2 linked regions of the Homo sapiens genome follow. The protein of the gene in region 1 purifies or fractionates together with the protein of each later gene. This does not show direct contact. Each region holds a gene or a part of one and is shown in the gene's direction. Other genes may lie near its edges.

Region 1 (5,918 bases):
TTTTATTCTCTAAATATACTTTGCTTTATTTTACTTTGCAAATGATTTTAAAATTCTCCCTCTTTTTTTTTTTTTTGAAACAGAGTCACACTCTCCTGCCCAGGATGTAGTACAGTGGCACAATCTCAGTTCCCTGCAATCTCCACCTCCTAGGCTCAAGCAATTCTCCTGCCTCAGCCTCCTGAGTAGCTGGAATTACAGGCACACATCATGGCACCTGGCTAATTTTTACTTTTTTTGGTAGAGACAGGGTTTCGCCATGTTGGCAAGGCTGGTCTCGAATTCGCCTGCCTTGGCTTCCCAAAGTGCTGGGATTACGGGTGTGAGCCACCGTGCCTGGCCTGATTCAAAAATTCTAATGGCCGGGGCACGGTTGCTCACGCCTGTAATCTCAGCACTTTGGGAGGCCGAGGCGGGTGGATCACGAGGTCAGGAGATCGAGACCGTCTTGGTCAACATGAAGAAACCCTGTCTCTACTAAAAATACAAAAAATAGATGGTCATGGTGGCTCTTGCCTGTAATCCCAGCTGCTCAGGAGGCTGAGGCAGGAGAGTCGTTTGAACCAGGGATTCGGGGGTTGCAATGAGCCGAGATCCTGTGGCTGCACTGCAGCCTGGGCAACAGAGCAAGACAGCAAGACTCCGTCTCAGGAAAAAACAAAACAAAACAAAAATTCTAAGGAATACAGTTACTTGTAGTATTGATGTTTGGCATAGGTCATTCCAATCTTTTTATTATGTATTATTGTTTTTGTAGGTTATTATATATTCTCTTGAATATTTATCTTTGTTTACTGTTCATAATTTTATTATGAAACCAATTTTGGATTTACATAGCGATTTATAGATAGATTTACATAGCAACTTATAGCTTTGAATGTATTTGTAGAAAAGAAAGAGTATTGAAAATAAATGTAGACATTCTACTCAGGAAACAAGGAAACTTTTTTTAATCTTTCTTTAACCTTAGAATTTAGAAATGATAATAAGATGAAACTAGGTTTGGACCTTTTTCTTTTGTTTTTTTGTTTGCAGTTTTTTTTTCTTTTTTTAATTATTTTTATTTATTTATTTATTTTTTATTATTATACTTTAAGTTCTAGGGTACATGTGCACAACGTGAAGGTTTGTTACATATGTATACATGTGTCGTGTTGGTGTGCTGCACCCATTAACTCGTCATTTACATTAGGTATATCTCTTAATGCTATCCCTCCCCCCTCCCCCCACCCCACAACAGGCCCCGGTGTGTGATGTTCCTCTTCCTGTGTCCATGTGTTCTCATTGTTCAATTCCCACCTATGAGTGAGAACATGCGGTGTTTGGTTTTTTGTCCTTGTGATAGTTTGCTGAGAATGATGGTTTCCAGCTTCATCCATGTCCCTACAAAGGACATGAACTCATCATTTTTTATGGCTGCATAGTATTTCATGGTGTATATGTGCCACATTTTCTTAATCCAGTCTATCATTGTTGGACATTTGGGTTGGTTCCAAGTCTTTGTTATTGTGAATAGTGCCACAATAAACATACGTGTGCATGTGTCTTTATAGCAACATGATTTATAATCCTTTGTGTATATACCCAGTAATGGGATGGCTGGGTCAAATGGTATTTCTAGTTCTAGATCCCTGAGGAATCGCCACCCTGACTTCCACAATGGTTGAACTAGTTTACAGTCCCACCAACAGTGTAAAAGTGTTCCTATTTCTCCACATCCTCTCCAGCACCTCTCCAGCACAGAAAGAGTATTGAAAATAAATGTAGATATTCTACTCAGGAAACAAGGAAACTTTTTATCTTTCTTTTAACTTAGAATTTAGAAATGATAATAAGATGAAACTAGGTTTGGACCTTTTTCAATAATTCTGACCACCGTTCAGTAAATTTACTGTATAAGAAAAGTAGAGGTTTGGGGTTGAATTTTGTTTTATTTTTTCCCAAAGATGTCTATCTCTGATATCTTAGGGCCTGGCAATTGTTTTTGGTCATAGGTGGGCTCTGAATAAATGTCAGTTGAACAAATATATAAAAACCAAACAAAGGAATGTTATTTCAACTGCCTTCAGAGTGTCACAACAAATATCAATGAAAAAGAAACAAAAATAAAGACTCAATTAATTCTCCAGTGAACACTTCAGTCCTCTAAAGGTACTTCCCTGTGTCCACCCAAACTGCTCTCTAACCGAACGCAAGCAAGGGGACTCCAATGCTCTCAGGCCATGAACTAATGAGGAGCTTCATGCCTGCCCTCAGTCTTTCTTCATACCCAGGGCAAAGCTGGCCCACAGACTTCCAGACATGCTTTCTTCGTTTGGGTAGAGATGGGGATCCAAGTCCCCTATGTATTTCCTCCAGAGCCACCTGTAAAACATGGGTGAAATCTACCTGCCCTCTAGCTCACCACTTCCAGGTCAAGCCCACTCATGGACCACTTTAACAGTGACAGTTGGCTTGACTGGGGAAACTGAAAAAAAGGAGCTTTCTTTAGATTTTCTGATAATCTGCATTGCCATTGCTGCTCCTTTTTCAGCAGCACAGAGAGTTGGATTATGGAGGGTTGCCTGCTTATTATGCAGCTACATCCAGGATGCTGAGTGTCTTCTGATCATGATCAAGAGCAGAGTGAAGAGATACAGGCGGAGGAGAGGATCACAGAGAGGTAGAAGTGGGAGACTGGTGGATAGGTCACTAGGCACCACTGAGTGACTACCATCACTTCTCACAGATTAGATTATTGACAAGCCAAGTATGGATTTGATTTCTACAAGGCCAAAAGCTACTCCATCTTCTAGCCAGACCACAGACTTTGTTTTAAGCCAGGACTCGTTTTCCAGCAGTTAGTGCAATTAGGGAGGTTGGGAGGATGTACACAAGAGCAGGGAGAAAATCTGGAGCCAGACAGTGAGAGAGGCAGAGGGGAAATGAAAAACCCCGTGGGAGGCTGCAGCAAAGCGAGGCAGTGTGGCTTCTCTGACAGGGAAGTCAGCAGAGGGAGAGGTTTGTCTGTCTGTACAGCAAGGGAAGTCAGACGAGAGTGCAAGAGGGTGTGGAGAGGGGTACTGATATCTGAATTATTAGGGCAGGTGTCCTGCCAAGGAATCCCTCCTTTAACAGAGCTTCAATGCTGCTCCTGTTCCTCCTCTTCGAGGGTCTCTGCTGTCCTGGGGAAAATACAGCAGGTAAGAAGAGTGCAGGTGGAAAGATACCTATGGTAGGGCACCAGAGGGCTGAGAGGAAGCTCTGGGGAGGTCCTGGGGGAAGGGAGCAGTACTCTTCTAGGATGCCCTTGGAATATGCCTTTCAGGCTAGTTCCAGGCAGAGAATTCTTGCTCTCAGTCTCAGTTTTTGTCTCTGATTTTGGAGAAAGGAAGCTGGCCCCACAGGAAAAGGGTATTGGAGTATGTACAAGCTACCTAACTGTCTCTCATCTCTGGGTTCCTTTTTTCCCTTTGGCATCACTTTTCCCATCCCTTTACATTCTCTCTACTTGTCATTTCCCTCTCTCTCAGCTCCCCAGGCTCTACAATCCTATCATCTAGCAGCAGAGGAGCAGCTGTCCTTCCGCATGCTCCAAACTTCCTCCTTTGCCAACCACAGCTGGGCACACAGTGAGGGCTCAGGATGGCTGGGTGACCTGCAGACTCATGGCTGGGACACTGTCTTGGGCACCATCCGCTTTCTGAAGCCCTGGTCCCATGGAAACTTCAGCAAGCAGGAGCTGAAAAACTTACAGTCACTGTTCCAGTTATACTTCCATAGTTTTATCCAGATAGTGCAAGCTTCTGCTGGTCAATTTCAGCTTGAATGTAAGTTCGTTGCTCTAAGCTGATAATTTGCCTGGGAACACCAACTATTTTCCAAAGTGGAAGATAGTATATAGACTCTGACCATCATTTAACCTTACTAACCTTGTTCCCCACTCTCTGACTCCCACTCCCTCCTCTGCTTCACCCTTCACCACCACCCACACTCCACCATATACACAAAAGGGCCTGCATGTACATATCTCAACATGAATATAGCTTCATGTCTGGCTCTTTGGAATGATTGTCTCCTCTGGATCTTCTGCCCCTCATTCCTGCCCTCAGACTCAGCCTTTCTCAACCCTCTTTCTGCCCTTCTTTATCCTTTGCCTGAGTGTTGACATGGACTGGCCTGTACCTAACCACTTTCACGTGAATTATTTATGACCAATCTCCTATCTTCCTGATAGCCTTCCCATCTACCACTTTCCCATTAGTTATTTCAAAGTATCTTTATTATCTTCAAATTTTCTTCCCACAAATTTTCTTCCCCTTTGCCAGTAAACTCTAGTCTCCATATGATTTCCCAGCAAATTTTTCTTCCCTTGAATCTCTTTACTGTCTAAATTGTTTGTTTTTCTTCCTTGTCATTCTTTCCATAATGATCTCTCTTCCCTGTCCACTCTCAGACCCCTTCGAGATCCAGATATTAGCTGGCTGTAGAATGAATGCCCCACAAATCTTCTTAAATATGGCATATCAAGGGTCAGATTTCCTGAGTTTCCAAGGAATTTCCTGGGAGCCATCTCCAGGAGCAGGGATCCGGGCCCAGAACATCTGTAAAGTGCTCAATCGCTACCTAGATATTAAGGAAATACTGCAAAGCCTTCTTGGTCACACCTGCCCTCGATTTCTAGCGGGGCTCATGGAAGCAGGGGAGTCAGAACTGAAACGGAAAGGTGAGCCCAACTCTCTCTCTCCCCTCTTGTTCCTAGTACTATAACTCTCATATTTGAATTTGCCTCTCATCATCATTTTGAAAGACATAGTGAGAGACTAGAGAATGAGATGTGTGGGTTCAGGACTGTTTCTTAGACAAGAGAAAGAAGTGATTACTAAATCACTCTTAGTATTATTACAAAGGCACCTGAGTCTCTGAGCTCTGGCCTGGGGTGCCCTTCAAAATTCCATTTTTTTTCTATCTTCTTCTTCCTAGTGAAGCCAGAGGCCTGGCTGTCCTGTGGCCCCAGTCCTGGCCCTGGCCGTCTGCAGCTTGTGTGCCATGTCTCAGGATTCTACCCAAAGCCCGTGTGGGTGATGTGGATGCGGGGTGAGCAGGAGCAGCGGGGCACTCAGCGAGGGGACGTCCTGCCTAATGCTGACGAGACATGGTATCTCCGAGCAACCCTGGATGTGGCGGCTGGGGAGGCAGCTGGCCTGTCCTGTCGGGTGAAACACAGCAGTCTAGGGGGCCATGATCTAATCATCCATTGGGGTGAGAAACAGCTGAGGCTCTGCTGGGAAATAATGAAAATAGCCCTGGGGCTTTTGAGTGTGGGGCTGAGGAAATGGGTAGGAATGCTAGGTACAAGAAGGGTAAAACTGGGACAATCAAAATAAAGAAGGATAGAGTATGACAGTAGTTAAATTTTAAGAAAATGGAAGTAGAGAATTAGACATACTAACAGAAAAAGGAGGAGGAACTAGTGATTTAGTGGGAGAGGGTTGGGAGGAGATCACAGACAAAGGATCAGGAGGAATTGAAATGAGGGCTTTGGAAAACCCAGATGAAAATTCTAGGAAGGTCCCACCCTTGTGAAATGGGAAATCTCAGCTTGGTGGAATAGAGTATTTTAGGGTTGGTATTCTTATTCTATCCCCAACCAGGTGGATATTCCATCTTTCTCATCCTGATCTGTTTGACTGTGATAGTTACCCTGGTCATATTGGTTGTAGTTGACTCACGGTTAAAAAAACAGAGGTGAGCTTTTTCTTGTTCTTTGTTTCTTCAGCCTGTAATCAATTCATTCCTTTTTCCTCTATCTTCTTTTTTTTTTTCTCTGCCTTTCCCCTTTATTTCCTTTCTTTGAGATTAATATCCTCCTCTTTTCCCACAGTTCAAATAAGAACATTCTTTCTCCCCACACACCCAGCCCTGTCTTTCTCATGGGA
Region 2 (3,500 bases), about 50 Mb from region 1:
CACCACCCGCCCGATGACTCTGCCCTGTGTGCCTTCCCTATCCGGGCCATCAACTTGCAGATCAAGGAGCGCCTGCAGTCCTGCTACCAGGGCGAGGGCAACCTGGAGCTCAACTGGCTGCTGGGGAAGGACGTCCAGTGCACCAAGGCGGTAAGGAGGCACACACCTCGCTCTGCTCCTGCTCCATGACACAGGTTCCAACCTTCCTGTCCATGCCCTGGGGCACATCTGCTCCCACACCACCATGGACCTGAAATGAAAGAGGTTTTCAGACTCAGGTTATCAGGTGGTAACCAATAACGCAGGGTCTTACGTACACCAGATACTTGAGATATGTGTGTTGATTTGTTGTCATTTCAAATATATGTATTGAGTGCCTACATCACATCAGGTGCTATTGTAAATGCTGCAGGCTTCAGCTGTGAACCATACAACCCTACAAAGCTCACTGCCCTCATGGAGATTACACGCTAGTTGGGTGAGACAAATGAACACATAATACATGTTAGTTTGCCAAATGGTGATAATGGCTATAGAGAAAAATAAACAGGAAAGGGGGAGAGGCAGTAGCTGAGAGGACTGACTCATTGAGAAAGTGGTGTCTAAGCAAAAACTGAGGATGGGAAGAAAGGGAGCCACACAAGTGTCCAGAGAAAGCATTCCAGAGAGAGAAAGGGTGAGGAGAATGTGCAAAGAATTCAGGGCATGCCTGGAGTGTCTGAGGAACAGTAAGGAGGCAACTGCAGCCAGATCAGAGTATGTGAGAGAAAGAGCAGCAGGTGATGGGGTCCATCAGAAGTAATGGGGACCAGGTCATGTACACACAGAGCTGTAGGCCACTGTGGTTCCCAGTGAGGGGGTCAAGTGGAGATCAGAAATCTAAGTCAGAGGAGAGGGAAGGGAGTCTGGCTTGACCAACTGATGGAAAACTGGAGAAGAATCAGGAGTGTGGGCAAAGGCAAAAGAGGAGAGGATGAAAAGCTCAGAATCCAGACCTGAGGAAAGCAGAGACAAGAAAATCAGTGGCAAGCACTGCCCTGTCAGCGGCTCATGGTGCTGCCATCAAAGTATTCATGATCCACTCTTCTTCCATCATTCATCCAACCATCCAATCATCCATTCATTTATCCACCCATCTCTCCTTTCATCCATCCCCTTTCCTTCCCTCCTTTTATTCTCCTATCCATCTATCCCTCCATCCTCCTTAGCTCTCTCCCTCCATGCATCTCTCCATCCATCCATCCATCCATCATCCATCCATCCATCTATTCACCTATTTACCTAAACCTCCATTCATCTGTCCCTGATCCTTCCCTTCATTCTTTCCTCCATCCCTTCCTCCATCCCTTCATCCATCTCTTTATCCACTCATCCCTCTTTTTTCTCCCTTAATCTATGTCTCCATATCTTTATCTATCCATCATCCATTTGTCTACCTAGCCCTCCATCTATCCATTCATCCCTCTCTTTATTCATCCACCATCATCCATCTACCCATCCCTCTATTCATTTACAAGTAGTATTGAAGATCTTCTGAATGCCTGGCACTGTACTAGGCACTGGGGTTGCAAACATAAAAAGACATGATCGGCTGGGTGCGGTGGCTCACACCTGTACTCCCAGCACTTTGGCAGGCTAAGGTAGGCAGATTGCTTGAGCTCAGGAGTTCGAGACCAGCCTGGGCAACATGACAAAACTCCGTCTCTACAAAAATTCCAAAAATTAGCTGGGTGTGGTGATGCACACCTGTAGTACCAGCTACTCTGGAGGCCTGAGCATGGGAGGTGGAGGTTGCAGTGAGCCAAGATTGTGCTACTATACTCCAGCCTGGGTGACAGAGTGAGACCCTGTCTCAGAAAAAAAAAAGACATGATCACTAGTCTCACAGATCTTATAATCTAGTAGGGGGAAGAGAGAGAGAGAGAGGAAGAGAGAGAGAGCTAGAGACAGCTGGCAACATAATGTAGTGGCTCAGAGTTTGAGGTTCTGAGACAAAAGCCAGGCTTCAAATTCCATCTGTGTTTCTTCCTGCCTTCTTCAGAAGCACCTTAGCATCTCTACATTCTTATCTGTGAGATGGAAATAATAATGCCTAGCTCATGGGATGATCAGATGAGATAATACATGGAGAGATTAGCACCATGCCTGGAAATGTTAGGTTTATTATTACACAGGGAGTTAACAGGGAGTGTGAGAAGTGCAAAAGTAGGTTTCTTGTACACAGTGCTGAGGGCTCTGGATCTGCAACCTAGAAAAAAATATATGAGACCAAGGGGCCCATACGGCTACCTTCTGAGTACTCTAAATTGAAGGTGCCTGCCGTTGGGACCAAGCACCAGTACTTGAAGCAAGAAAACATCATTCCAAGGCTACGCTTCTATTCCTGTCATCATTTGCTTGGTGTGGTAGAAGAGTCGTGGTTAAGGCTTTGAAGTAAACCAGATGGGGATTAAAAATCAGTCCTACCACTTACTCCTTGTGTGACTTTGGGCAAGTTATGTACCTGGTCTGAGCTGTAAATTTTTCGTCTTTAAAATAGAGATAATATTGTCTTCTTTTCATGGTTATTATGAGGATCAAATGGAAAATTTATGTAAAGTGCTTAGCACAATACCTGGAACATAATAAGCATTCAATAAATGGGCCGCTATGATTATTAATATTAATCACAGTAGTAAAGAGCCAGCTATTTTCTTAGTTATCTTACTGTTGTAAAATGAGGAAGCTAGACTAGATAGTCTTTGGTTTTTTTTTTTTTAACGCCAAAATTTTATGGCCACTGGCCGTAACCAATGTGGAGAGGTGGAGAGGAAATGTAACCCTCCGTAAGGGTTAAATGCTTGCAGAGTCCAGCCTAGTTCCCATAACCCAGAGGGGGCCTTGTCAGGAGGAAACTGCTGATTCCTGCCTGCTTCTGAGCCAGAGGAAAGAGGAAGATGACACTCTTCTCTGCTCCAGAGCAGAGGGACAAGCCTGGGCTAGTTACAAAAGGATAGCAAAGGCACTGGGAGAGAGGTGACAGTGAGTGGGGCCAGGACCTTAGAGTGGAGAGCCCCTTGCCTCCACCCCTTCAGCACCACACCCTTCTGGTGCAAGGGCTGCAAGAGGAATGGCCCCTTAAAGACCCTGATACTCCAAAGAACTAAGACCCAGGGACCCAGAAATATTTTGGTGGCCTTAGAGGGGAATAAGGATAAATGAAAGAAGCTGTGGTCCCAGAGCTTGATTTTAACATGACTCTGGAATAACATGGAAATCTCAGATCAAAAATTTGAGCTCTGATCCCAGAAAAGAGAGGAAGAAGGGGGCTATCACTCATTGAATAGCAGCTAGTCCTAAAGGCTAAGCTTGGCAATTTAAGTGTTATCTCACTTGCTCCTCACAATGACCCCATAAAGCAAGAGTTATCTTCCCCATTTTACAGATTAAAAAACAAAGGCTCACAAAGACTAAGTAAGTTGCTCAGATCTCCACAGCTATAAGTGATAAAGCGGGGATTT

Evidence for each region. Proteins that work in one complex are often made in the same cells at the same time.
Region 2: the proteins of CD1E (region 1) and PLXNA2 purify together in Homo sapiens (affinity purification with mass spectrometry; 2 studies listed by BioGRID and IntAct, with this or other methods). This does not show direct contact.

What each region holds. Positions count from the first base shown.
Region 1 is NC_000001.11:158,350,865-158,356,782, forward strand, and holds the start of CD1E (T-cell surface glycoprotein CD1e, membrane-associated isoform a precursor), read left to right. Parts: upstream 1-3,029; 5' UTR 3,030-3,124; coding exon 3,125-3,182; intron 3,183-3,512; coding exon 3,513-3,809; intron 3,810-4,435; coding exon 4,436-4,705; intron 4,706-4,962; coding exon 4,963-5,241; intron 5,242-5,633; coding exon 5,634-5,727; intron 5,728-5,863; coding exon 5,864-5,918. UniProt on the Homo sapiens protein: T-cell surface glycoprotein CD1e, soluble binds diacetylated lipids, including phosphatidyl inositides and diacylated sulfoglycolipids, and is required for the presentation of glycolipid antigens on the cell surface. The membrane-associated form is not active.
Region 2 is NC_000001.11:208,213,385-208,216,884, reverse strand, and holds part of PLXNA2 (plexin-A2 precursor), read left to right. Parts: coding exon 1-150; intron 151-166; exon of another isoform or gene 167-250; intron 251-3,500. UniProt on the Homo sapiens protein: Coreceptor for SEMA3A and SEMA6A. Necessary for signaling by SEMA6A and class 3 semaphorins and subsequent remodeling of the cytoskeleton. Plays a role in axon guidance, invasive growth and cell migration.